Regions from separate parts of the Homo sapiens genome. Here all the other regions are reported to be linked to region 1. The links are microRNA targets in miRTarBase. Many come from high-throughput screens and were not tested one by one. Region 1 holds a microRNA gene; each other region holds the end of a gene's coding sequence.
Evidence for each region. Region 1 holds the annotated microRNA hsa-miR-29b-2-5p (CUGGUUUCACAUGGUGGCUUAG, at 2,251-2,272, shown strand). A microRNA usually pairs through its seed, bases 2 to 8, with sites in the 3' UTR of a target mRNA and lowers its output. Matches are read on the target gene's strand: a 7mer-m8 pairs with bases 2 to 8, a 7mer-A1 pairs with bases 2 to 7 and ends in A, and an 8mer does both.

Region 1 (5,105 bases):
GACCCCTTTTATCCAGTGGAATTGGAAAGGCAAAGGATTTCAATACTAACATGATTTTTTTCTCCACTTCTTTTAGAGTGTTTAATTAAAGTGATGCATTGTTAATGGCTTCTTATCTCTTCTTCCAGAGAGTAAAGAGTTAAATTTTAGAATCCAGGAGTGGGGACCCAGACTGTGGCTTCTGTTAACTCCCTCAGTGGCAGTGGCGTCCTGCTATGCACAGCCCCTCTGCTGTACTCCGAATGGTCCCTTACGGGTAGCAGGAGAGACATTAAATAATCACACTGATGACCAAGTGAGATAAGTGGTTTTTGAAGGAAAGAACTTGAGGCTGGCGAGGACCACTTAACCTTCTAGCAAGGGCTGGACTCAGGGAGGCTTTCCTGAGCTGCGGGGAGGATGACAGGTTCCCTGGAGTGGTGGTGGGTGGGGGCGGGGCTGAGGGGTGGTAGCCAAGGGAGGGTGAAGGAGAGTATTCCAGAAGAGACAACAGCTTAGGCAGGCAGGACCTCGCCATGGAGGAAGGTGCTTTCTGATCACTGCGGGACACCTGTGTGATAGCTCATAGGGAGGGGGTACTGGTAACTAAAAGTTGATAAGGAAGAGTGGCTAAAATGAAAAGCAGAAAAGTGAGAATCTCATCAAATCCCCTCATTTGACAGGATTTGGACTCCCAGTAGTAACTGTCCTTAAACACTCACTCCTGACCTTACAACCCTGGCTGTTACCTGGTTAACAAGCCCCAGGTGTTGGCTACAGGTGTCATCACTGAGAGCCCTTGTGTGCAGATCTGCCCCAGCTCTCCCACCTGTGACTGAGGCTAGCAAGTCCCCCGTGGGCTGTAGAGCCTAGCGCTGGTGTCAGAATCGCTTGTTGCAGGTTCATCTTCAGTGTCTTTCCCACAGCCACATGCTGGGGAAAGACGGCAAAGGCGCTAGAGGAGCAGGAGAACAAAGCAAGCTGCCCCAGACCACCCGGCTTTCGCAGAACCCAGATGATGCTCCTGTCTCCCCCTAAGTATAACGTGTTATGTAGTCAGTATGATCCCATTCAGTGCAGAAGTATCGCCTAGGAATTTCCTGCCCCACCCACCCTGTTTTGTTCTTAATGAAGTTCAAGAACAAAATGAGATGATAGTCAAGTTATGGAGCAGGCTGCAGTGGATACAAGGGCAGAAACACAGTCTTTGGAGTTAGACCTGGGATCTGCATTGATTGGTTGTGTGACTGCAGACAAGTTATTTAGCCTCATTAAGGATGAATTTCTTCGCAAAAATTGGAATAATACCTGCCCCATACGACTGTTGTGAGAATTAAACACCGCAACTTTTGATGTTCAAATTCTATTTCTTCTCCTTCTAGCAACACATACTGTTAGTGCCAGGAACCATAAAAATTATAAGGCTGTATCTAGAGGCCTGAAAGGAAGCTAAAATATACAGTGTCTACTCTGTCTCTTTTCTCTTGGTTATGGTATCAGAGGAAATACACATATTTTCTTAGCTTCAAACCACCAAAAAAGATGATGCAGTAAGGAGATGGGAAATCTAATTTGGAATACAGTGTGCAAATCTTATTTTCAAGCAGACTTTGAAAATAAAACTCAATTCTTACGTTAGAGGATTATCTGCTTAATACAATTATAGGGTACCAGTTTTTGAAGTCACATCGGGGTTAAATAAGATTGCAGGTTCATGGGGTCATATTTGAATGTTCTGATACTTACATATGGGGTGGGAAGGAGGAATGCATGCTTTTCTCAAGTTAAGACACATAAAAGAGTTGTCCTGGCCCAGGTGAGACTCGCCTTTGTGTAGCAGCTGGAGCTTCATTCCACAGGCAGATAGGGTGCTTGTGTCCTGATGAAGTAAGAGAATATATCTGGAAACACTTTGTGTACTGTGAAATACTATACAAATGCAGGGCAGTACAAATGTAAATATTAATGTATTTTAGTAATAATTTTAGCTTTTATTTCATCATATATAATAATTTGTAGTGACTGGTGTGAAGTTAAATAGAATTAACCTAGAATTAATGAGTTTTGTATTGCTCTCATCTATTTGAAGCATCAGCTGTGCCTTTCATGTTGCCTTGTGCAGCCCTGTGTAACCTCCTCTGTGCCTTTCCCATGGAGCACTGTGTCATATCACAAGTAGAACTACAAGAAGATATTTCTCCTCAGGGCAGAGGCTGGGTCTTCCGATTGAATCTCCCTTCTTTCTTCATTGAGATCCTCTTCTTCTGGAAGCTGGTTTCACATGGTGGCTTAGATTTTTCCATCTTTGTATCTAGCACCATTTGAAATCAGTGTTTTAGGAGTAAGAATTGCAGCACAGCCAAGGGTGGACTGCAGAGGAACTGCTGCTCATGGAACTGGCTCCTCTCCTCTTGCCACTTGAGTCTGTTCGAGAAGTCCAGGGAAGAACTTGAAGAGCAAAATACACTCTTGAGTTTGTTGGGTTTTGGGAGAGGTGACAGTAGAGAAGGGGGTTGTGTTTAAAATAAACACAGTGGCTTGAGCAGGGGCAGAGGTTGTGATGCTATTTCTGTTGACTCCTAGCAGCCATCACCAGCATGAATGTGTTCGTAGGGCCTTTGAGTGTGGCGATTGTCATATTCTGTTGGATAACAATGTATTGGGTGTCGATTGTCATGGGGCAGGGGAGAGGGCAGTACACCTGGAGGACCATTTTGTCCACATCGACACCATCAGTCTGCTCTTAGAGGATGCCCTGGAGTATTCGGCGTTGATTGCGGGGCACCCGAAATCAGACTTGCCACCTGGACTGTCGAGGTGCAGACCCTGGGAGCACCACTGGCCCATCTCTTACACAGGCTGACCGATTTCTCCTGGTGTTCAGAGTCTGTTTTTGTCTAGCACCATTTGAAATCGGTTATGATGTAGGGGGAAAAGCAGCAGCCTCGAAGCCTCATGCCAACTCTGGGCAGCAGCAGCCTGTGGTTTCCTGGAAGATGGATGGGCAGAGAATAGGGAAGGAAGATCATGCTTTTCCCTACTAACTTCTGTAACTGCATGTATGATACATTATTGCAGAGGTAAGAGATAGTTTAATGGATTTTTAAAAACAAATTACTATAATTTATCTGATGTTCTCTAGTTGCATTTTGCTGAAATGTAGTGCTGTTCTAAATTCTGTAAATTGATTGCTGTTGAATTATCTTTCTGTTGAGAAGAGTCTATTCATGCATCCTGACCTTAATAAATACTATGTTCAGTTTATCATGTCTGTGTTTTTCATCTATTATTTCCCATTCATAATTCTGTGATGATAAGAAGTGGGTCCTGAAAAATTAATTGGCTGTGCAGATCTTGCCTACTTCATAAAGAATTTGAAGTAGGTTACAGCCAGCCAGACATTAAAAATGAAGCCCATTAAGAGAAGAATGAAATTCTATGAGCCAAGAAATAAAATGAGAGAAAAGATTAGGGAAGAGAAGAAATGTTGAAGATCAAGGCTGAGGGATGCTCCCTACTGAATGGGAAAACTCCTTAGTTCCACATGGGCTGTAGACACAGCCCTTCTGCCAGCAACTGTTCCTGCAAGGAACTGGTGCTCAACTAAACATACTGTCACATGGTTCCTTGAAGGGGCACAGCACTGATTTCACTTGCATTATAAAAGATTGAGTGGTGCTTTTGACTATTAGTTTATGTCAACACTTCAAAACAAGATGAGCCAGTTTTTTTTTGTTTTTTTTTTTTGTTTGTTTGTTTGTTTTAGACGGAGTCTCACCCTGTCACCCAGGCTGGAGTGCAATGGCACTGTCCCCGCTCACTGCAACCTCCGCCTCCCGGGTTCAAGCAATTCTGCCTCAGCCTTCCGAGTAGCTGGGATTACAGGCGTGGCACCTCCACGCCCAGCTAATTTCTGTATTTTGTAGTAGAGACGGGGTTTCATCATGTTGGCCAGGCTTGTCTCGAACTGCTGACCCCGTGATCCACCCACCTCAGCCTCCCAAAGTGCTGGGATTACAGGCGTGAACCACCTCGCCTGGCCCAGTGAGCCAGTTTTGTAAAGCTATTCAGAGATTAGCCAGATTTGATTTGATAGGGGATCAAGCTTGTAGGATCTTCAGGAAGGCGGGCTGTGGCCCCTTGATCAGGCTTTTTGCACAGGAGGTGCATGACTATGAACTACCCTCAGTAGAACTCTTTTAAGCCAGTGGCTTGCAATAAATGATGGCAAATCAGCCACCTAGGAAGCCATTTCTAAGCCCAACCCCCTGCCACAGTCTTCCTCTAGATGGCTGCCCTGCCCAGTGGGCTGAGAGTGGGGGGCGGAAGTAGCATTTGCTGGGAAGACTTGCCAGTACATATGTTGCACCCCCTCACTGCAGCTGCAGTGCTATTTCAGGCTGTTGATGGAAGAACCCATGTTCTAATCCCCAGGATGTGGTGGGAAGACCCTAAGTGGTGGTGTTAGTTAAGACCCTAAGTTATATTGTTTTGTTCACTTCCCACTGAGATAGGCTACAATAGTATTAAATACCTATAGGTCAGACATTTTTGGGGTCTGTTGTACTACCTACCAATTAAACAGTTTTTGATCCGCCCACCACGCTCAAAGCTCCAGCCTAGGTGTTGCAAATACAGACGACAGATTTTTGCTCTCAGGAGGCCCTGATTCCAGTCCTCAAACGAGTAAGTGTGAAATTGAGTGCAGCATTAAAGCACAAAAACAATGATTTGAGACGTCTTTTCTATAAAAGAAGTTTATAGCACTCTCATTGAATGCTTAAATAGTGCCACACTGCTAAGTCGTGAGAAGCAAAATGTAACTGCGGTGCCTCAAACAGGATTATTTTGTTTTATTCATTTGGATGCGGACAGCTCTTTATCTAAAATTGCCATTCTGAGGTGGTTTTGCACAATAAATTGGTAATTATGTAGACTGTTTCTTCCAGAGACAGCATCTTGAATCGGGTTTATGAAGCCATGCTATCAACCTAGGTAGAAAATGCTTTGTAGGACATGGGTCCTGCTTATCTAAATTTTACCAGATTTTATTAGCTGTAAATTTATAAGCGGGTCTTGGTGAATAGATAATGAAAAAAATATTGAGTGGGGAGGCTTATTAGACT
Region 2 (5,105 bases), not on the chromosome of region 1:
GATGGTTGCTAAATTTCACAGAGGAAATCCATATCCAGCCTGTTTACCTGCTGTCAAAGTGAGCATTCAAAGGGACACCCCAGTGGCTCCCCACTTCCAGGCCTCTTGGCAAGTCATGCCTCCAAGTCATTGGTGGCATCCTGCAGCTCTCCACTGACAGCAATGCTTCTGCAGACTGCGTCTGCATACTCTTGTAGTGCTGGTTCAAGACTGGGCCACCAAAGACTCAGCTGAGAACATAACCCAAGAGGTCACCAAAGAGGTGTTGCCGCCTTTATGTGGTCCCCTTCGGGATGGAGGATTTCTTCAATGTTATTAAATAGCATTGCCGGTCAGAATATTCTTGAACCCTATGGCAAACGTCTCTCCCTCGAGAGTGGATTTGATTCTTGGACAGAGCCAGTGGCCAACATGCGAGTTGGGGAAATGTAATTTCTTAACAAAAAACACGGTGAGAGTGCAAGAGGAGGAGGTTGTTTCTTTTGTGTGGTTTGTTGACAGGCTCTGAAGGGTTCTGCTGTTGAGTCGCCGCAACACCTCAGGACCAAACGCCAAGGGTGCCAAAGAGACCTGGCATGACAGCTGCTATTTTTTGTTTGTATAGGTTCTGGTGATGAAACCACATACCCCTACCATCACTCAGGTCCACATCTCCCACCAGCAAAACAAATGCATCAAAGTCAAGTTTCAGGACAAAGGTCCTCCTCGGAGGACCCCAGGACAGGCACAATCAAGGGGAAACATAGTCTTGGCTTTGAGTTAAACTGGCAGACACTTGTCTCTCAAGTTTTTGGTGTAACAGAGTAGGAAACAAAATCATTTAGAAAGTCAAGTCTCTTACAGCCTGTGTGTAAGAATTGCTTCTCAACAAGGCACATCACAGTTTTATTTGGAGATTTCCAAATGTTTCTTGGTATGTATATAAAGCATATATTTTCATAAGAAAAATACTTATCTGCCTTTTAGGCAGTTGTTCTTTTTGTATATCAGATAGTAAATAGATTGTCCCTTTGAAAGCATCCATTAGATAGATCTACTTTCGGACACTGAGGCAAAGGCCTCAGGCACAAAACAGAGTCAGGGGCCCAGAGGATCACAAAACTGGCCAAGCCCTCCCCTAACACAAATGCACTGGAAGAAAACATGAACCCATTGTTAAAATTAATACTAGGATTGCAGGATGTTCTTTAATCTGCGTGATTGCTTTATTGTACAAAAAGTTTCCAGTAACAGTAAATTGGTTTTAAAAAAGGACAAAAAAGTCATTTTGGATAGAAGTGCTTCACTAATTGCTTTATTTAAGCATACAAGAAAAAAAGTTTTATCTGACCAATTACGTTGGAAGGGTTTTATTACCTTTAAGAAGCCATTAGCTAGGATAAAACACTGAAAGCACTTGTGTCAAAACAAATAAATAATGTAAATAACGCTCTCTCAATTAGCAGAGAAAACAGTGAATCCGTTAAATCAGAGACACACATCACTTCACAAGCATGGCCCAGCCAGCACCACCACCCCCAAAACGAACAAAACAAGAGACAGCAGTTTTCAGTTACAATCTTGGGAAAGATCAGGAGCTTTGGAAAACGCGTGGTAAACATGTCTGTTTCTCCTTCTACCTCCACTCAACCTGAGCTGCACCCGGACACTTTAAAGGAGGCATGTGTCCAGAGGCTGCATCCAGGGATGCCCAGAGGGAGCCTGCCCTGCTAGGCCTCCTCTCAGAGGGCGCATCCCAGGCAGAGGAGACTGGCCTGGGTGATCGTTACCTCCACGGCCCAGTAGAGTGTGGAAAAACATGAGGTGCCCACAGACAATGGCTGCCAGCGAGTAAAGGGAAAGAAACCCTGAGGTACCATGATTCTTTTCTCTTACTTCCTCAAATGCTACTGATCTCTCCCCAAGTACAGGCTCAACAGAAAAATACAGTGGTTTGAGGACCCCAAGAAGTCAGCACACAGGCCAGGGGCCAGCTCCAGGCTGGGTCTGTCTCTCCCACCTTGGGAAACCCAGCGCTAAAACAATTTTTTTTTTTTTTTTTTGAGACGGAGCCTCGCTCTGTCACCCAGGCTGGAGTGCAGTGGTGTGATCTCGGCTCACTGCAACCTCTGCCTCCCGGGTTCAAGCTATTCTCCTGCCTCAGCCTCTTGAGTAGCTGGGATTACAGGCGTGTCCCACCCGGCTAATTTTTGTATTTTTTGTAGAGACGGGGTTTCACCATGTTGGCTAGGCTGGTCTCGAACTCCTGACCTCGTGACCGCCTTGGCCTCTCAAAGTCTGGGATTACAGGCGTGAGCCACCGAGCCCAGCCCCTCCTTAAAACAGTTTCTAATCAGATCCGTTATTTTACCCAAATGGGTTGAGGGAACAAAAACCAACCCTCATCACCCTATTTGGTGAAAATAAATATAAAAAAAGATGATCCTCTCTTAAAGGGTCACTTTCCTTCAGGGGTTTGTAAGGCTCAGCACTTTAAAAAGCTTGAACAGAAGTCCGGTATTGCCACTGTGGACTGTTTTTGAGGCAAGTTCCCTAATGTGGACAGCCCCACACCTAAGAGCAGCAGATCTAACTTGGAACGTCTCAACCATGGGTTAAAATCAGATGGGATGAAAGAACACCTGCAGTGACTCTCAACAGCTACGGAAGTCTCACATTGCAGGGCTGACTGATGAGGTGCTGGCTTCTTATTCTCCGGCCCTCTTTCCTAAGCAATGTTTGTCAGGGAATACCAGGTCCGCTTCCTGAAATGCCAGGGCCCCTCTAGGACCTTATCATTCCACAGCCACATCAGTAATAGGAAAACCACCAATGGCTACCTGGAGGTGGCACCAACTTGGAAAGGGAAGGCTGGGCAGGGGTTTGGACACTAAGCCCATGAGCTGTTTGGACAACTTCAATCTCTGGAATTGAGTTTAAATTTCTGTAAACAACTTTAAAGTCAACTCTAGAGAGACATTTTGTGTGACTGGTCCAAATAAAACAGCACATTTAATGAGGTCATATTCTTCTTAAACTTTTTAAGAGAAGCAAAAACAATGGAAAAGCCATTAAAATTTACACAAAGACCATTAAAACTCTACTAGTGTCAATTAAAACAAAGCCAATAAAACATGAACAACTTCAAAGTTACCATCACTTTCCACACTGTTCTACAGTTATAGGAATATATTCAAGCACCATATTGATAATAGGTAGGTAAACGATGAAGTCCTACTTTGGCGGTCTGACCCACGCTCACACAAACGAGGAGCTTCCTAGTCAAGATGCCCCCAGTCCTTGGCAATGTGCCTGCTTCCTGGGCATTGCTCAGTGGCAATGGAAGAGCCAATAAATCAAATCGCTGGTGGAATATTTTACTTTGAAATGGAGTGATGTTTGGTTAATAATTTGAGATCCACTAATCCTAAATGGGGTGACCCATTTAAAATGGCCTCTGTGTAAATTCACAGTTCATTAAATAGAGTCTGGTTTGAACAGGTCATTATGTAGTTAGTATATAAGTAATGGATTGAGCAAGGATGGCTGGGGATACCCATGGGGACACACTGGCTGAGTCTGGTGGCTTTCATAACACTGTCAAGCTTTCTTTTAATGTGAGATTCATTTAAATCACCAACTTAAATTTAGGTGGTTTTGCTTAGTAACCTCTTTTGGTTTACAGTAGAAAATGCAGTGCAAAAATTTTAAATGAGGAATATTCCATTTACAATTAATTTAAAACTTATGAAGCTGTTTTAACTGGCCCATCTAAATGTGTTAATTAACATCAATGATGGTTTCTTATTTTTCACACTTTGTTACTCTGATCATTAACAGTGATGGAAAAGCTAAATTAAGTTAATGGGGAACGGATTATAAATTCTTAAAGGACTTCTTAGTTTGTTTTCAACTGGAAAATATATAGAGAAAGATGAAGGGGCATTTTTGCCTCTACTCATCAATTTTTGGTACCAAATTTCTTAAAAACCAGATGGTTTAAAGAAAATTTTTCCAAAAATTATGTTAACATTCTGCTCAGACATGGCTGCTAAAAAAATAGCATATACACATATAATACTGAACAGCTTCTGCAGTGCCTGTAAACTCTCAGCTCATTTTCTCTTTCTAAAAAAAATATATATTATAACTGATCCCAGAACTCAATCTCTATTGTGCAGCAGTATCAAAGGTCCTTAAATTCTCAACAATGAAGGAAAAACAAAAACCCATTCCCCGGACCGCTTGAGCAGGACTAGGGAAGGAGGAGTCCGTGGATGCAAAGGTTCGCTGCCCCGACGCCCTCAGATTCCTCGAGGCTGCACCTCTGCGGGCAGCTGGCGGGGCGCAGGCCAAGCCCCTCACACCCGGGAGATCCACACGCGCGGCACACACGAAAACCCAATGCCACTTATCGAGACTTCACGCCAACGAGGACAACAATGAGCACAATGATGATGACAAATAATATTAAAATCACAAGCATCTTCCGATTCTTCTTTTGATACTGTTCTGCCTACAAAAAGAGGAGGGAAAAAAGGCCGTCATTTTCCCCAAAATCCCAAATCAAGTCCCACTCGTTTCCAGAATGAGGCTTCCAGATCTCTCTGCACAGTGACTGAGGTCTCTGCTACAGGCTACATGATTGTAATCCCTCCAATCAATCCCACGGAATTCAATCACCAGGAGTGGAAGAGCCCCATGATCCTGGTGCTGCTTATTTACCCTGGACGTGGAAATGGATTTGTTGGAAACCTACTACTAAGACAAAGCCTGACAGGGAAGTGAAAGCTCATGCTTCCGGGTGCAGCTGGGCCTGCTTCTCCCGGCTTTTCCTCCTGCAGGCCGTGGCAAGTGCCCCTGCAGCACGGGTCGCCTGTTCCCGGTCCGTGTTCCTGGAGCGAATGCACAGTTCCTTCACCGCGGAAGGAAACAACGGGCTGGAGGACCGTACCTGGCAGGTAGGCAACAGACACCCGGAAGAGGCCCCATTTCGACCTCCCCTAAATTTGGAAACAAAAACTCATCCTTTGAAATAAAAACAGACACGTGTGCCCCATGGATGTCATATGCAGAAAGATCCCTCTGAGGCGCGTCCTCCCAGTGCCGCTAACGATACAGCAAAG
Region 3 (5,105 bases), not on the chromosome of region 1:
GGCCTATCTCTTCTTAATGACTAGGTCCTGACTAGTGTCCCCCACCACCCACCCCCAGCACCACCACCCACCCCCAGCACCACCACCCAATACCTTGTACAGGAATACCTTCCACAAATCTCTAAGTGGCCTCAGGCCACTGGATAGAGCCCCAGGCTCTAGCCACTGCATTTCCTGTCCCATTGGGAAAGTAGAGGAGGCTGAGGTTTCACCCCAGGAGATCCTTAGAGCTGTCCTAGTCAGCTAACTGGTACTCTGGGGCAAGACCTGTTTGCAGAGCATATGGGGATGATTGCAGAACTCTGTTCTAGGGTCCAGACCACAGTTACCTGAAAATGTGAACTATGGAAACCCATCATTGGTTTGTGCTTAAATAATACTTTGACCTCTCTTCCATGTAAATTTCATTCCTGTGACATAAATACAGCAAGTAGAACTGATCCCCATTTCATATGAGTAGACCAAGAAACACAGAGAAGTCAACAGACTTGCCTGTGGCTGCAAAGAGTCACAGCTGGGCCCAGAGCTGGTGTGTGTGTGTGTGTGTGTGTGTGTGTGTGTGTGTGTGTGTGTGTGTATTTTTATTTCTTTTGAGATGGAGTCTTGCTCTGTCACCCAGGCTGGAGTGCAATGGTGCGATCTTGGCTCACTGCAACCGCCGCCTCTGGGGTTCAAGCAATTCTCCTGCCTCAGCCTCCCAAGTAGCTGGGATTATAGGCACCCGCCACCATGCCCAGCTAATTTTTGTATTTTTAGTAGAGACAGGGTTTCACCATGTTGGCCAGGCTGGTATTGAACTCCTGACCTCGGGTGATCCTCCTGCCTCGGCCTTCCAAAGTGCTGGGATTACAGGCGTGAGCCATCATGCCCAGCCAACTCTCTTAAAAAAAAAAAAAAAAAATAGAGAGATAGGGTTTCACCATGCTGCCCAGGCTGGTCTCCAACTCCTGGGCTCAAGTGATCCTCCCACCTCAGCCTCCCAAAGTGCTAGGATTACATAAGTGAGCCACCTCGCCCAGCTTCCATTTACTCATCTTGCAAACTGGGGATTATTCCTTCTCTACCTCACAGACCTGTTGTAAGTATAAAATGAGATACTATACAAAAGACAAAAACAAAAACAAAACAACAACAACAAAAAAAAACACTTTGGAAAGTAATAAAAGCTATACAAATGCTCATATCTTATTTTTATTCTTTGTCTACTTCCTAGGGGAAGAGTAATCTAAAAAACACTGCAATGGCCTATGTTCTAGGTTTCATGGGAAGGCTGACGTATTTTGATGTGTGTATACTATCCATATACTGTGCACTCCTAAGGACCAATAATGATTGAGGTAGAGTATCTGCAACGATGTAGGGGGTCACAAAGGAATCGCTTTTACAAATGCAGAGAGCTATAAGTAGTGCCTCAAGCAATTTCAAAATGTGGAGGCACAGTAAGCCTCACTCTGCCTGCATTCTAGGTGGCCTTCGTGATCCACCCCTTGAATGAGGGCTTTGAGGAGGGGGCGGGTTGCCTTTGCTGCTTTCAGATCCTGGGGAGCCAAAGCCTCCCCTGACTCGTTGGTCTGAAATTGCTTTCGTGGTCTGCCAGGGAGAATCCTGCCAGGAAGAGCCAACCTACTTGGGGTTGGGGTTGGCTGTTCCAGCTGTTTACCAATTGCCTCTCACTTGTAAAGTGTAGCTTTAATTATAGTTTTGCCAGAATTCATTTTAGGAATGGCCACTAACAATGATTTACTTGGGGAAACCTGTAAGCAACTGTGTCAAGCCACGTGCAGTGAAACCTGAATTAACTGAAATCTCATTAACTAGAATACATATTTCCTGCTCACCTCATTAAAAATGGGAGAACAAAGAACATAACACATGAACTGAGTTCCTATTACATGTCAGACACTTCACTACGCACTGGAACTACATACAGTGCAAAGAATGGACAGGCATTCTAGGAACTGACTGTCTTCCTAAATGGAAATCTGCTGTTTAATTCCAGTCAACTAGCAGGGGCTCCAAGACTTGCTGTTAAGCCAGACAGTAAATCAAGTCACTGTTCTTTTAAGATTGTTTCCTTTGGCCCGGTTTCATGGGCCTTATGTTGCAGAAACCTCTATGGACTTCCTCTTCAGGATTTGCTTCCAAGCAGGATGTTTTGCCAGCTGCCCCGAGTCCCCAGTGCAATAGCTGCGGCAATCAGTTTGGTGACTAACAGCAGGCTCTCCATTTAAATCATAAACTACATGGGTGAGTGGGGAAAAGTCTTCTCTATATTTTATATTCCCTGATCCAAACAAACCAAATGTAAAAGGGCATTTATGAGACAACCGGGATGTTTCAAACACTGACTAGACATTTCATGTTAATGAATTATTGTTCATTTTGTAGGTGTGATAATGGTGGGGTTGTGGTTATGTTTTTTTAAAGAATCATTATCTCTTGGAAATATATACTAAAGTATTTACAGATAAAATGATATAGTTTTGCTTTATAATAATTCAGCAGGTCTGTAGTAATTGATGAAACAAGATTAGGCATATGTTTATGGTTGCCTGGGGGCTGAACTGTATTATCCTCTTATTTTGCTCATGTTTGAAAGTTTCCACGGTAAAGTTTAAAAAAAATAATAATAACCCTTCATCGGGCGCGGTGGCTCACGCCTGTAATCTCAGCACTTTGGGAGGCCAAGGTAGGCAGATCACCTGAGGTCAGGAGTTTGAGACCAGCCTGGGCCAACGTGGTGAAACCCGGTCTCTGCTAAAAATACAAAAATTAGCCAGGAATGGTGGCACATGCCTATAATCCCAGCTACTTGGGAGGCTGAGGCATGAGAATTGCTTGAACCCAGGAGGCGGAGGTTGCAGGGAGCTGAGGTTGTGCCACTGCACTCCAGCCTCGGTGACAGAGTGAGACTCCGTCTCAAAAAAAGAAACAAACAAACAAAAAAAACCCTAATTATGTTAAATTAAAAATGTTTGTATTTCCTTTCCATCCACTACCTGAGTCTAGTAGAGGAGATAGAAGGTCCTTAATCCCTGCTTTCAGTCTCCCTATAAACTATGTGAAACTTTATAAACTTCTATTAACACAACATCTAGCACTCAGGAATCCTTACCTGCTGATCTCCTTATAAGAGGTTTTCATGAAGCCAGTACTTGTAGGATTAAATGTAAGGAATTCTCTATAATTTCTAAGATCTCTTCATTTTCCTCCGCTTTTATTATGGGTTTTTTTTTTTTGTTTTTTTTTTTGTTTGTTTGTTTGTTTGTTTTTTTGAGACGGAGTTTCGCTCTTATTGCCCAGGCTGGAGTGCAAAGGTGCGATCTCGGCTCACTGCAACCTCCGCCTCCCAGGTTCAAGCAATTCTCCTGCCTCAGCCTCCCGAGTAGCTGGGATTACAGGCATGCACCACCACGCCCGGCTAATTTTGTATTTTTAGTAGAGACAGGATTTCTCCATGTTGGTCAGGCTGGTCTCGAACTCCCGACCTCAGGTGATCCGCCCGCCTCGGCCTCCCAAAGTGCTAAGATTACAGGCGTGAGCCACTGCTCTCAGCCTTATTATGGTTTTGAGGGGTACAGTCAAAGGAAATTTGAGGACTTGAACCCCTCAGATATGAAACTGCCACCAGCGGGAAACAGAGAAGTGAGTTTCCATTGACTCTGGACATTCTCAAACCTGATGCAGGGGGATGGGAGAGGGTTGATGCTGACTGTGACATTGCAGGACGGAGCTTGTGAAACCCAGTTTCTCTCATCACCACGGTTTCATTAATTTTGAAAATAATGGTTATAGCTCCTTTTGTTTTTGAGATGGAGTTTCGCTCTTGTTGCCCAGGCTAGAGTACAATGGTGCAATCTCGGCTCACTGCAACCTCCGCCTCCCAGGTTCAAGCGATTCTCCTGTGTCAGCCTCCAGAGTAGCTGGGATTACAGGCCTGTGCCACCATGTCCGGCTAATTTTTTGTATTTTTAGTAGAGATGGAGCTTCACCGTGTTAGCCAGGATGGTCTCAATCTTCTGACCTCAGGTGATCTGCCCTCCTCGGCCTACCAAAGTGCTGGGATTACAGGTCTGTGAGCCACTGCGTCCGGCCCGATTATGGCTCTTTAAGAAAAAAACTTCCCACACTGAAACCTCAAATACTGATCACAGGATCCACCTGTGTTACCCAGCTGTTCTAGCAGCAAAAGTCTGAAAACGACCCCTCACTTTAATCAGGCAGGCAGGCAGGCATTCCACATGTACACCTGAAACCACACCAGACTATTTCTGCATATTATAAGTCACGAGAGAAAACCAGCTAGACCAATGAAGCAGCTTCTTCTACGATTAGATGCTTGTGTTGGGGGTGCGGGATTGGGGGAGATATGTTCTAGAAGCCACTGCCAGTTCTATTTAGAGTTAATCAAGCTTACCAGGACCCTGGGTCTCATGCAGCATGCAGCAAACAGCAGAGTTAACTGTAAAACAGTAAGAGCTGATGAAGATGGAGTGAGCATGAGGGGAAATCAAATATTATGACTTGACACAAACAATGAAGGGTTAGAGGTCAAAGGTGATTAGGAGTAGCAGGAAGGGGAAGTGGGAAGGGTGGACTGGTAGGAACCCCTGAAACACTGATACTCTTTTTTTTTTTTTTTTGAGTCAGGGTCTCTCTCTGTTGCCCAGACTGGAGTGCAGTGGCGCAATCATGGCTCACTGCAGCCTCAACCTCCCGGGTTCAAGCAGTTCTCCCACCTCAGTCTCCTGAGTAGCTGGGATTATAGGCAAGTGCCACCAGGCCCAGCTAATGTTTATTTATTTATTTTTTTTGTAGAGACAAAGGTCTCACTATGTTGCCCAGGCTGATCTCAAACTCCTGGACTCAAGCAATCCTTCGCCTTGGCCTCCCAAAGTATTGGGATTACAAGCATGAGCCACCACGGCTGGCCAGTACTTTCTTAATCTCTTTAGGGGCAGCTAAAGGAAATTCTGAATATGTGACTCTTAGATCCAACCACCATCTCTCAAGAAGAAATACTACTACCACCATTTCTGCCCTCAAAACTCACTACCGTGACTATGGGAGGAGGGTAGCACAGGTCTAACGGTGGCTCTTCCAGA
Region 4 (5,105 bases), not on the chromosome of region 1:
CCTGGCAGGTTAAGTGCCTTTTAAAATATTCCACAACTTGGAAACCTTTAAATCCTAATTCCTGGTTGTATCATGCTAAACTGTTGGATCCAAGCACACCAGTCCATATACTTCGAGAGATAGGTCTAAGACTCTCCCATTGTTCCCATTGTGTCCCCAAACTGGAACCAATTCCTGAATGGCCCCCTCTGGCCTCTTGTGGAGTCCCACCTTTTCAAAAGCCTCTTACAAGTCCCAGCCGGCTCTCTAGAGATCATGCCACTCTAAATGGAGCACTGCAATTTGCCACCAAACAGCTAAGCCGAACATTGAGTAGAGCCACTCCCATACCTGAATACCTAAAACAGATCCCTAATTCATGTGTTTCTGGGTGTTGCTGTGGCTGGCTGACTAAAACAGTTAAGGAAACAACTCGTACTGAACCCATCAACACTACTTATTCTTACACTGACTTCCAAAAGGCAGTTAACAAACTCCTAACTGCATCACTGTAAAGATCTACCATTTGCTCTGATATCTCTGATGTTGCTAATTGAGAAAGTGGTACAAAGTTAGTCATTACACAGCCCACTAATGCCTTCTCAGTCAAACTCTCTTATGCCCTGGCAAGCCAATGAGGATACCCTTTGACAAACCCTGTGGATAAAATGATAATATCAAGGTCAGGCATGGTGGCTCACACCTGTAATCCCAGCACTTTGGGAGGCTGAGGCGGGTGGATCTGCTGAAGTCAGAAGTTTGAGACCAGCCTTGCCAACACAGTGAAACCCTGTCTCTACTAAAAATAAAAAAATTAGCCGGGCGCAGCAGTGCACGCCTGTAATCCCTGCTACTCGGGAGGCTGAAACAGGAGAATCACTTGAACCCAGGAGACGGAGGTTGCGGTGAGTTGAGATTATGCCACTGTACTCCAGCCTGGGTGACAGAGCGAGACTCAGTCTCAAAAAAAAAAAAGGAGAATTAGTTAAGGGGACCATATTACAAAAGATAGTTGAATATTCTTCACACTCACTTCTCACCCTCCCCACCCCAATTTACTCTGCCTTTCTGAATGGCTTTAATGAGATACCTGATTATTAATGAAGAAAAGTAGACCACCACCCCTTTTGTTATCCAGACTTTAGAACAGCCATTGTTGAAAGCAAGAAGTTAGCTACCCACAATAATACCTTTCTGAGCATACTCTTCTCTAACATACATTTCTGTGGAAGTAGTTGAATTAAATTGAGTAACTACACAAAGGAAAATGGCAGGGCTATGAATTTCTTTCCCAGCTTTTATATAGATGTGCCTACATATGACACTCTTTAGGGTTCCTTTTATTTTTTCTTTTTTTTTTTTTTTGAGGTAGTTGAATTAAACTGGGTAACTACACAAAGGAAAATGGCAGGGATATGAATTTCTTTCCCAGCTTTTATATAGATGTGCCTGCATATGACACTCTTTAGAGTTCCTTTCACTTTTTCTTTTTTTTGGAAGGGGGCGGGGAGGCAGGAGGAGTGCAGTTTTAAGCCTAGCCTATACTACTACAAACTTATTATGGTACTTAAAATTACAGCATGAACGTTCTATATCGGAGTCTCCCACCAGGCTGTCTCTGACTAAATCAGCCTATAAGATCATCCCTTGGGATTAAACAAACACCTGTTCTGTAGGGAATGTGTTTCCTGAATCTTGGTACTCAGACTTTTGTCAAGAGTAAATAACATTTCAAAAGATGAATGGAAAAATGATTAAGAGAGCATTTCTGCTTTCAGCATTAACTGCTAATGGATTAAAATTTTAATCTGTATAGCATTTCCTGGAGTAAAAGCTCAAGTACTTTCCACATCCATTGCAAACTTTTCAGGAACCCTTCTAATTTTTTTTTTTTTTTTTTTTTTGAGACGGAGTCTTGCTCTGTCGCCCAGGCTGGAGTGTAGTGGCATGATCTCAGCTCACTGCAAGCTCTGCCTCCCGGGTTCGTGCCATTCTCCTGCCCTGCCTCCCGAATAGCTGGGACTACAGGCGTCCACCACCACTCCTGGCTATTTTTTTGTATTTTTAGTAGAGACAGGGTTTCACCGTGTTAGCCAGGATGGTCTTGATCTCCTGACCTCGTGATCCACCTGCCTCGGCCTCCCAAAGTGCTGGGATTGAACCCTTCTAATTTTAAAGAACCTTGTTATTAGAAAATCTCAGCCTAATACAATCTGAAGTTAAGAGTTTTAGCAGCATTGTTTTTCTAAGTAGATTTAGCTATAGATTTTCTTCTGGCCAAACAAGGAAGAGTATATGCCCTTGTAAATGAGTCTTGTTTTGTTTATTTAAATAGTCAGTCAAAACGTAGAAATCAGTATACGTAAAATAAAATGCATGAGACTATTAAATCTTTTCATATACTCTACAAATAAAATGAAATCTGTGTGTGGTCCTGGTTGACTGGGCATCTAAAGGGAATCAGAAAAGAGATTGTGAAAAGTTATATATATATCCTCTTCCTTATTTTAGTTTTGCTTTTTCCTATTTTCCATAATTAAGTGCCGTTTACAAAGTGGCATCAAAAAATTGAAGCAGGCCAGGCATGGTGGCTCATGCCTGTAATCCCAACAGTTTGGGAGGCTGAGGGCAGGTGGATCACTTGAGATCAGGAGTTCGTGACCAGCCTGGCCAACATGGTGAAAGCCCATCTCTACTAAAAATATAAAAATTAGCCGGGCGTGGTGGCATGTGCCTGTAATCGCAGCTACTTGGGAGGCTAAGACAGGAGAATTGCTTGAACCTGGGAGGTGGAGGTTGCAATGAGCTGAGATCGCGCCACTGCACTCCAGCCTGGGCAACAGTGAGACACCGTCTCAAAAAAAAAAAAGGTTAGGAATCACAAATTGTGTAAATATATAGCAACTTTAAGAAGAGAGAAGAATGCTTATAACCTAGTGAATATTTCTGCTGAGCCTTAGTTGTCTTGTCTAAAGGAAAAAAGAGGGAATTGTAGAATAAAAGTATTTGTTAGTGGAAATTATTGACCTGAAACCATATCATATTGTTAGTGTAACTGAATGTATCAGAAATTGTTCCTATGTAGGTATTCTGTGAAACTGGTTTCTAAAATGTTACAGGAAACTGTTTCCTTTTTTTTTGTTTGTTTGTTTAAGTGGAGGTGGGAGGAGGTAGGGAAGAGGTCTGAATATTAAAATATGTTTATGTTCATGTGTTCATAATACGTTCCTTTTTCTCTCTGTGTGTGTATAAAAGTGCCTTGCTCATGAATGCATTTTTGCTATTCACTTCGAAAGGAAGCCTTTCCCCAGCTTGGCAGCTGAATAAACCAATAGCTTTGTACATGCTGAACAGAGTATGGTCATTTGTCCTCAACAAATGAAATAGATCCTACTTTGCTTAAGGCATATTCTACATTCACTAAGTACTGAATAGAGTTAATAGATACAGTACCTGAATCTATATAGTATGTCTGACAGGAGATGACTTGGCGTCTCTAGAGAAGAAACACACTTGAAGAAGAAAATGTCTGATATTCAGTCAAGATTCAAAGTGAGCTTATTTGTTTATGTATTTTAAGTAATTCCAGGTTGCACAAAATAACAGGTACCTAAATAAGCCTTAAGTTAACTTTTTGTGTGGCATAAACACTGGGTTTGGGAATGAATTTACTACCTTTGCACTCCCTATGTTGGCTTCTGTTAAATGCAGTCACCATAATTAAGATAAAAAGATTATTTTATCCTCTATTTATAGAAATATTTATCAAAGGAGTAAGGAAACTATTTCTAAACCAGTGGACATTAACTGTCTTTTACTTTCTCAGTGCAGATAGGCAACTTTTTTTTTTTTTTTTTTTTTGAGATGGAGTTTCGCTCTTGTTGCCCAGGCTGGAGTGCAATGGCGCAATCTCGGCTCACTGCAACCTCCACCTCCCGGGTTCAAGCAATTCTGCCTCAGCCTCCCGAGTAGCTGGAATTACAGGCATGTGCCACCACGCCCAGCTAATTTTGTATTTTTAGTAGAGATGGGGTTTCTCAATTGGTCAGGCTGGTCTCTAACTCCTGACTTCAGGTGATCCACCCACCTCAGCCTCCCAAAGTGCTGGGATTACAGGCATGAGCCACCGTGCCCAGCCATAGGCAACATTTTTATTAAAACAGTCCAGATACCTTGAGCCTCAAAGACCATAATCACGTCTTTTAATCCCATCTGCTTCCTAAGAAAAGAAAAAAATCCATACATGCATGGCAGGAGGGCATATGATAGGTCCCCTCTAGGGGATAGAAGCCCTTCCTGCTGGGTCTTCTATCACACCTGTCCATATTTTAAAAAAAAAGTCTCTGATGAAAATGTTTTGATAGTGTAAATAGCTAAAGCATTTAAAGACTTTAGAAGTCACTTGGGTTATTTTCTGATGCGTAAGTTGGCTTGCATCTGGCTTTCTACTTTTGGCTCCAGTGTTAGAGAATATGTCTTTTGGAGCAGCCTGTTAGTTTTAAATATCTCTTGTTAGAAATTTAGCCATTCATCCAATATTGCTATGGAGAAGTGCCTACTCTAGTGCAGACACTGGGAATGCAAAACTAAATAAGATTACTACACATAGGAAATTAGTTTTAAAATATATGAACCTATATGTTACCCCAAGCCATTTCTGCTGTCTAGGGTCATATTAAATAAACCTAAACCCTAATCCATATGTTGGCCCTTCACATATTGAAAATAGCTTATAGTGGAGAATCATATAAAAGAATTGAATGGAGCAGCCATCCAAGTATAATGAAGATTCATCTGGAGGGCAGACTTCAATTAAACCCCCACAACGGATACTCAGCCAAGGAAATGGAGAAAATATATAGATATTTTGTATCCAGATTTAAATTATATCTGCTAATCACAAGGTAGTGGCACAAAGATCAGGGCCAAAAGTGTTTTGCTCAGGTAGCTAGGACATATAGAACAGCCTGAGAAGTATGGATAACTTCTCAGACTTCATGAGTTAACTGTGCAAGCTGGTAACGTATCTGTCCGCCAGTGATACCCATTGGACTGAGGGAGTTACATTAGCTGGACCAACCACCAGTACTTCTATGTCAACTTGCTGTTGCTAAAAGAAAAATGTC
Region 5 (5,105 bases), not on the chromosome of region 1:
AATCTGATACTTCAGCATGTGTTAAACTATAAAATACCTACTCCAAGTATCTGCCCAGTTCCTTGTCCCCTCTCCCCAGGCCCTTAAAGGAAGTTCTCGATACATATTTGTAGAATAACTGAATGTTTTCAGGATTCCTGTACTTTGCTGAGTTAAAATGGATATGGTACCCTTGCTGATTGGTTGAGCCCCTAAGAGGGGGCAGAATATTAAATATTCCATATCAGATATGCTTTTACAGGTTTGACTTTAGAAAAGTCTTAGCATGTGAAGCCTGTTGGATAAAGGGCTGTGTTTGCATTTAATCTGTCACTTTTGTATCTCCTGTCCTGGCTGGCCATTTTGATCTCATGCTGTTCTTTTTTTCTTTTGAACTTGTAGGTCACCATGTACTTGACAAGATTTCATTTACTTAAGTGCCATGTTGATGATAATAAAACAATTCGTACTCCCCAATGGTGGATTTATTACTATTAAAGAAACCAGGGAAAATATTAATTTTAATATTATAACAACCTGAAAATAATGGAAAAGAGGTTTTTGAATTTTTTTTTTTAAATAAACACCTTCTTAAGTGCATGAGATGGTTTGATGGTTTGCTGCATTAAAGGTATTTGGGCAAACAAAATTGGAGGGCAAGTGACTGCAGTTTTGAGAATCAGTTTTGACCTTGATGATTTTTTGTTTCCACTGTGGAAATAAATGTTTGTAAATAAGTGTAATAAAAATCCCTTTGCATTCTTTCTGGACCTTAAATGGTAGAGGAAAAGGCTCGTGAGCCATTTGTTTCTTTTGCTGGTTATAGTTGCTAATTCTAAAGCTGCTTCAGACTGCTTCATGAGGAGGTTAATCTACAATTAAACAATATTTCCTCTTGGCCGTCCATTATTTTCTGAAGCAGATGGTTCATCATTTCCTGGGCTGTTAAACAAAGCGAGGTTAAGGTTAGACTCTTGGGAATCAGCTAGTTTTCAATCTTATTAGGGTGCAGAAGGAAAACTAATAAGAAAACCTCCTAATATCATTTTGTGACTGTAAACAATTATTTATTAGCAAACAATTGATCCCAGAAGGGCAAATTGTTTGAGTCAGTAATGAGCTGAGAAAAGACAGAGCATATCTGTGTATTTGGAAAAATAATTGTAACGTAATTGCAGTGCATTTAGACAGGCATCTATTTGGACCTGTTTCTATCTCTAAATGAATTTTTGGAAACATTAATGAGGTTTACATATTTCTCTGACATTTATATAGTTCTTATGTCCATTTCAGTTGACCAGCCGCTGGTGATTAAAGTTAAAAAGAAAAAAATTATAGTGAGAATGAGATTCATTTCAATGTAATGCACTAAAGCAGAACACGAACTTAGCTTGGCCTATTCTAGGTAGTTCCAAATAGTATTTTTGTTGTCAAACTTTAAAATTTATATTAATTTGCAAATGTATGTCTCTGAGTAGGACTTGGACCTTTCCTGAGATTTATTTTATCCGTGATGTATTTTTTTTAATTCTTTTGATACAGAGAAGGGTCTTTTTTTTTTTAAGTATTTCAGTGAAAACTTGGTGTAAGTCTGAACCCATCTTTTGAAATGTATTTTCTTCATTGCAGGTCCACCTAATCATCCTGTGAAAGTGGTTTCTCTATGGAAAGCTTTGTTTGCTTCCTACAAATACATGCTTATTCCTTAAGGGATGTGTTAGAGTTACTGTGGATTTCTCTGTTTTCTGTCTTACAAGAAACTTGTCTATGTACCTTAATACTTTGTTTAGGATGAGGAGTCTTTGTGTCCCTGTACAGTAGTCTGACGTATTTCCCCTTCTGTCCCCTAGTAAGCCCAGTTGCTGTATCTGAACAGTTTGAGCTCTTTTTGTAATATACTCTAAACCTGTTATTTCTGTGCTAATAAACGAGATGCAGAACCCTTGAATGTTGGATGTTTTTGAATGTTGGTAATTAATATAATTTACTTAAAAAGGCTTGTGTAAGGCAAAACTCGTCATCACAGGCATGTTGGGGGATGACATTTTACCTTTAAGTCCACTCTCCCTCGTTTAATTGTCTCCTCTGATGTGTGTTGGGGATTCAGTCCTGCATAAAGTGATTTGTTGGAGTTCAGCCATTTCCCTCATGCCCCCTTGTGCCCTCTCGGTGGATCAGCAGGGCCTTTGAGCCAAGTGTGCAGCTTCACTCAGGATGGGCAGAGACTATGTGGCAGCCTCTGGGGACCTTTTGGCTCAGTGCTTTACTAGTGCCAGCGCAGTAGTGCTTAGGTAGCTTGTGCATCCCCGTGTTGATGTAGTCATAGTCCACACAGAGCCAAATAACAGACCCTTCTGTACTTAGCCATCAAATACTAAATCACAGTGAAGCCCTTGGGAAGGTAAATAATGTAATAGCCAGGGACTGATGGTATTAGTTCTTTAGTGTGATTATGTGCTTCTAAAAGTCCCTAACCACTTGGTTGAGGACAGACCATAAGTTTAAAACATTGTATAAGTGAAAGAATTAATATAGTATTGTTATAGGTAACCAAATTATAGTAATGTGGACTTGTTTTTGAGGTGGTGAGGGAGGGCTTATTTTGTGGTTCCATCTGGATGTCCTCTTGTCTCTGGAAATCAAGTGTGCCTCCCTGCCATCTCTACATACCCCTTAACCAGCTCTCCACAATTTACTTGTTTATGGTTATAGCTACCTTTTCCCCAAGTTACCCAGGTGTAGTTACCTTGGCCTTCTCATTGGTTTCCCTCACCCACATTCTTTAAGTGTCTCTTCTGTTTATCTTTTCTTCCTACTGCTACCATCCCAGGGCCTTTTGGGTGAATGTGGCAGCCTCCAATTTCTGCCTTAAGTCCTCCATCTAATAGAGTAGTGACTTTTGAACCTTGTAGTTGTGACCCAAGTAAGAAATACATTTTGAACTACAGTTCAGAACACAGAGGTCAGTATATTATACATGACAGAAGGATCCTGAAATATGACTTGCCCTTCTTGCATGCGATGTATCTGGTGCATGTGTGCATTTTTTTCTTTGCTTTTTAAGAAATCCTGGCTATGTCACCTTGAATTGATTTTACAACAAATGCCTGTCACCTGTAATTTGCAAAAACTGCTTGATCAGATTCTAAAAAATTTCTAAAAGATTTTTAAAAAATGTATTCTGATGTCATACTTGGAATCCTCCACTGCTTCCTGTTGCTCATAGTCACCCTTCAGTGATTTCATAAGGAGGTGTGCTGCTTCCCAAGCTTCTAGATCATCAGGAAGGGGCCGCGGACTGTAAGGTGCTCTCAGAAGATGGGACTAACCTTTGTTGGGAATATAAATAAGTGGATGGGATGGGAAGTGACAGCAATATCTGGTTCTGAGTTCTGTTGTGTAAAAACTTAAAGGTATATTAGCAGGTTAGCCTTTGTTCTGTGGGAGATCCAGGCCTTGTTAGAAGGACCAAGGCCAGAATGCCCAGTTTAGCCTTAGCATTCAAACCCTTCATTGTTTTTCCTCCATTATCTGTTAAACTCCTGCTTTGCCAAAGGTATCTTCTATACCCTAATAACACTAGCTTCCTTCCCTCAGTGGGGACTCAACGCACATTAGCCTACTGAGAGCTTAGATCACTACAACGAATCCTTGTAAATTTGTTTAACTCAGTTTTCCCCAAATTCATTTAAGCCGGTTCTACTTTTTCTGGTCTTGTTCCCACAATCATTTTACCTTTTACCACTCCCCCAGAAAACACTGGGGTTCTTCTCTTACGCTGAGAGCCAGGTTACTTTCTTCACTATCACTCCGACGCTTGTGTTGATTCCCAAATCTCAGTCTGCCCAGGGTCATTCTCTTTCTGAATTGCTCTTTCAGGATTTAATTTGAATCCTGCAAAGTCCTGTTCAAGGCCCCCTTTTCCATGAAGCCCTTCTTCCTTGTTGCAGCTCACAAATAAGTGTGCCCTTTCTCAAAACACGTATGAAACACCTCCTGCTTGTATACCTTTAGCAGTAGTTCCTCATATTGCCTGGCATTTAAACATTTTTGTATGCGTACATCTTGCTTTCCTACTTAAAGCAAGAGCAGGACCACATCTTTTTGTATGCTCTGGCACATGACTGTTGGACCACTTTGATATTGCTGAATTATATAGACTCCTTTTAAAATAATTTGAAATATAATTTTGGAGTATAGACATCTTGTCCAGTGCACTAGACAGGTGACCTTTGGCTTTGTTCATTAAGCATTTAGTGTCTTAGAAGTGATATGTTTACTGCAGAAAAATTTGGATAGCATGCAAAAAATGAAACATACTATCACAATCCTATGATATAACTTAAAAATTTCTTTATAGCTTCATGGAGGTATTTGATGAAAATTGTATATATTTAAGGTATATAATGTTTTGATACATGTATACATTGTGAAATGATTACCACAAGGAGGTTACTAAACATCTCCATCACCTTGTTAAATTGAGTTAAACAAATTTACAAGTTGACAAATTACATTTACAAATTTATGTAATTTTTTACGCTTTTTTTTTTTCTCCTTTTTCTGGAGAACGGGGTCTCGCTATACTGCCCAGGCAGGTCTCGAACTCCTGGGCTCAAGCTATCCTCCCGCCTCTTGCCTCCCTAAGAGCTGGGATTATAGGCGTGAGCCACCCCACCCGGCCTATGTCATTTTTTTATGTGGTGAGAATAAATAATCTCAGCAAATTTCAAGTATACAATTCATTATTACTAAGATAGCCACCACACTGTATGTCAGGGCTCCAGAACTTACTCATCTCATAGGAGGCAGCTACTTTTAACATTCTTGGTGTATATCCATCCTTCAGGATTTTCTGTATATTTCTCTAACAGCAAAAGTTTTTGTTAGCTACATCATGTGAAATGCCTGGGTAGACAAATTTAAAGATGTTATTTGGGATGGTGTGACTTGCACAAGCCACACAGCCTGCATGGTGTCCACTTTGAGGGGGATGCCCATAGCTATACTTAGAAGTCATCCTCTAGAGCAAGCTTGTCCAATTTGTTGTCCATGGGCCACATGCTGCCCAGGATGGCTTTGAAGGTGGCCCAAAACAAATTCATAAACTTTTGTAAAACGTGAGA

Region 2: the mRNA of STX16 is a reported target of hsa-miR-29b-2-5p. Seed matches in the 3' UTR shown: 7mer-m8 at 3,777-3,783, 7mer-A1 at 3,654-3,660 and 7mer-A1 at 1,238-1,244.
Region 3: miRTarBase lists SEPTIN6 as a target of hsa-miR-29b-2-5p. The part of its 3' UTR that is shown has no 7-base or 8-base seed match.
Region 4: the mRNA of DCAF16 is a reported target of hsa-miR-29b-2-5p. Seed matches in the 3' UTR shown: 7mer-m8 at 3,009-3,015 and 7mer-A1 at 3,305-3,311.
Region 5: miRTarBase lists BUB3 as a target of hsa-miR-29b-2-5p. Seed matches in the 3' UTR shown: 7mer-m8 at 479-485.

The regions. Positions count from the first base shown.
Region 1 is chr1:207,799,659-207,804,763 of GRCh38, reverse strand. It overlaps MIR29B2 (microRNA 29b-2), which reads left to right and starts at 2,241; the gene lies at 2,241-2,321. It overlaps MIR29B2CHG (MIR29B2 and MIR29C host gene), which reads left to right. Exons shown (of 6, transcript NR_135299.1): 6 at 2,102-3,246. It overlaps MIR29C (microRNA 29c), which reads left to right and starts at 2,825; the gene lies at 2,825-2,912.
Region 2 is chr20:58,675,577-58,680,681 of GRCh38, reverse strand. STX16 (syntaxin 16) reads right to left here. Exons shown (of 9, transcript NM_001001433.3): 9 at 1,156-4,495. The coding sequence ends at 4,391. All of the region lies in intron 8 of STX16-NPEPL1 (STX16-NPEPL1 readthrough (NMD candidate)), which reads right to left. Among named protein-coding and RNA genes, the nearest start is that of NPEPL1, 15 kb to the left of the region's middle. RefSeq lists enhancers at 3,805-4,329, 4,330-4,855.
Region 3 is chrX:119,620,918-119,626,022 of GRCh38, forward strand. SEPTIN6 (septin 6) reads right to left here. Exons shown (of 11, transcript NM_145799.4): 10 at 4,418-4,462. The coding sequence ends at 4,459. Among named protein-coding and RNA genes, the nearest start is that of NKRF, 17 kb to the left of the region's middle.
Region 4 is chr4:17,798,880-17,803,984 of GRCh38, reverse strand. It overlaps DCAF16 (DDB1 and CUL4 associated factor 16), which reads left to right. Exons shown (of 3, transcript NM_017741.4): 3 at 1-3,330. The coding sequence ends at 494. Among named protein-coding and RNA genes, the nearest start is that of DCAF16, 9.3 kb to the left of the region's middle.
Region 5 is chr10:123,163,439-123,168,543 of GRCh38, forward strand. BUB3 (BUB3 mitotic checkpoint protein) reads left to right here. Exons shown (of 8, transcript NM_004725.4): 8 at 382-5,105. The coding sequence ends at 397. Among named protein-coding and RNA genes, the nearest start is that of BUB3, 12 kb to the left of the region's middle.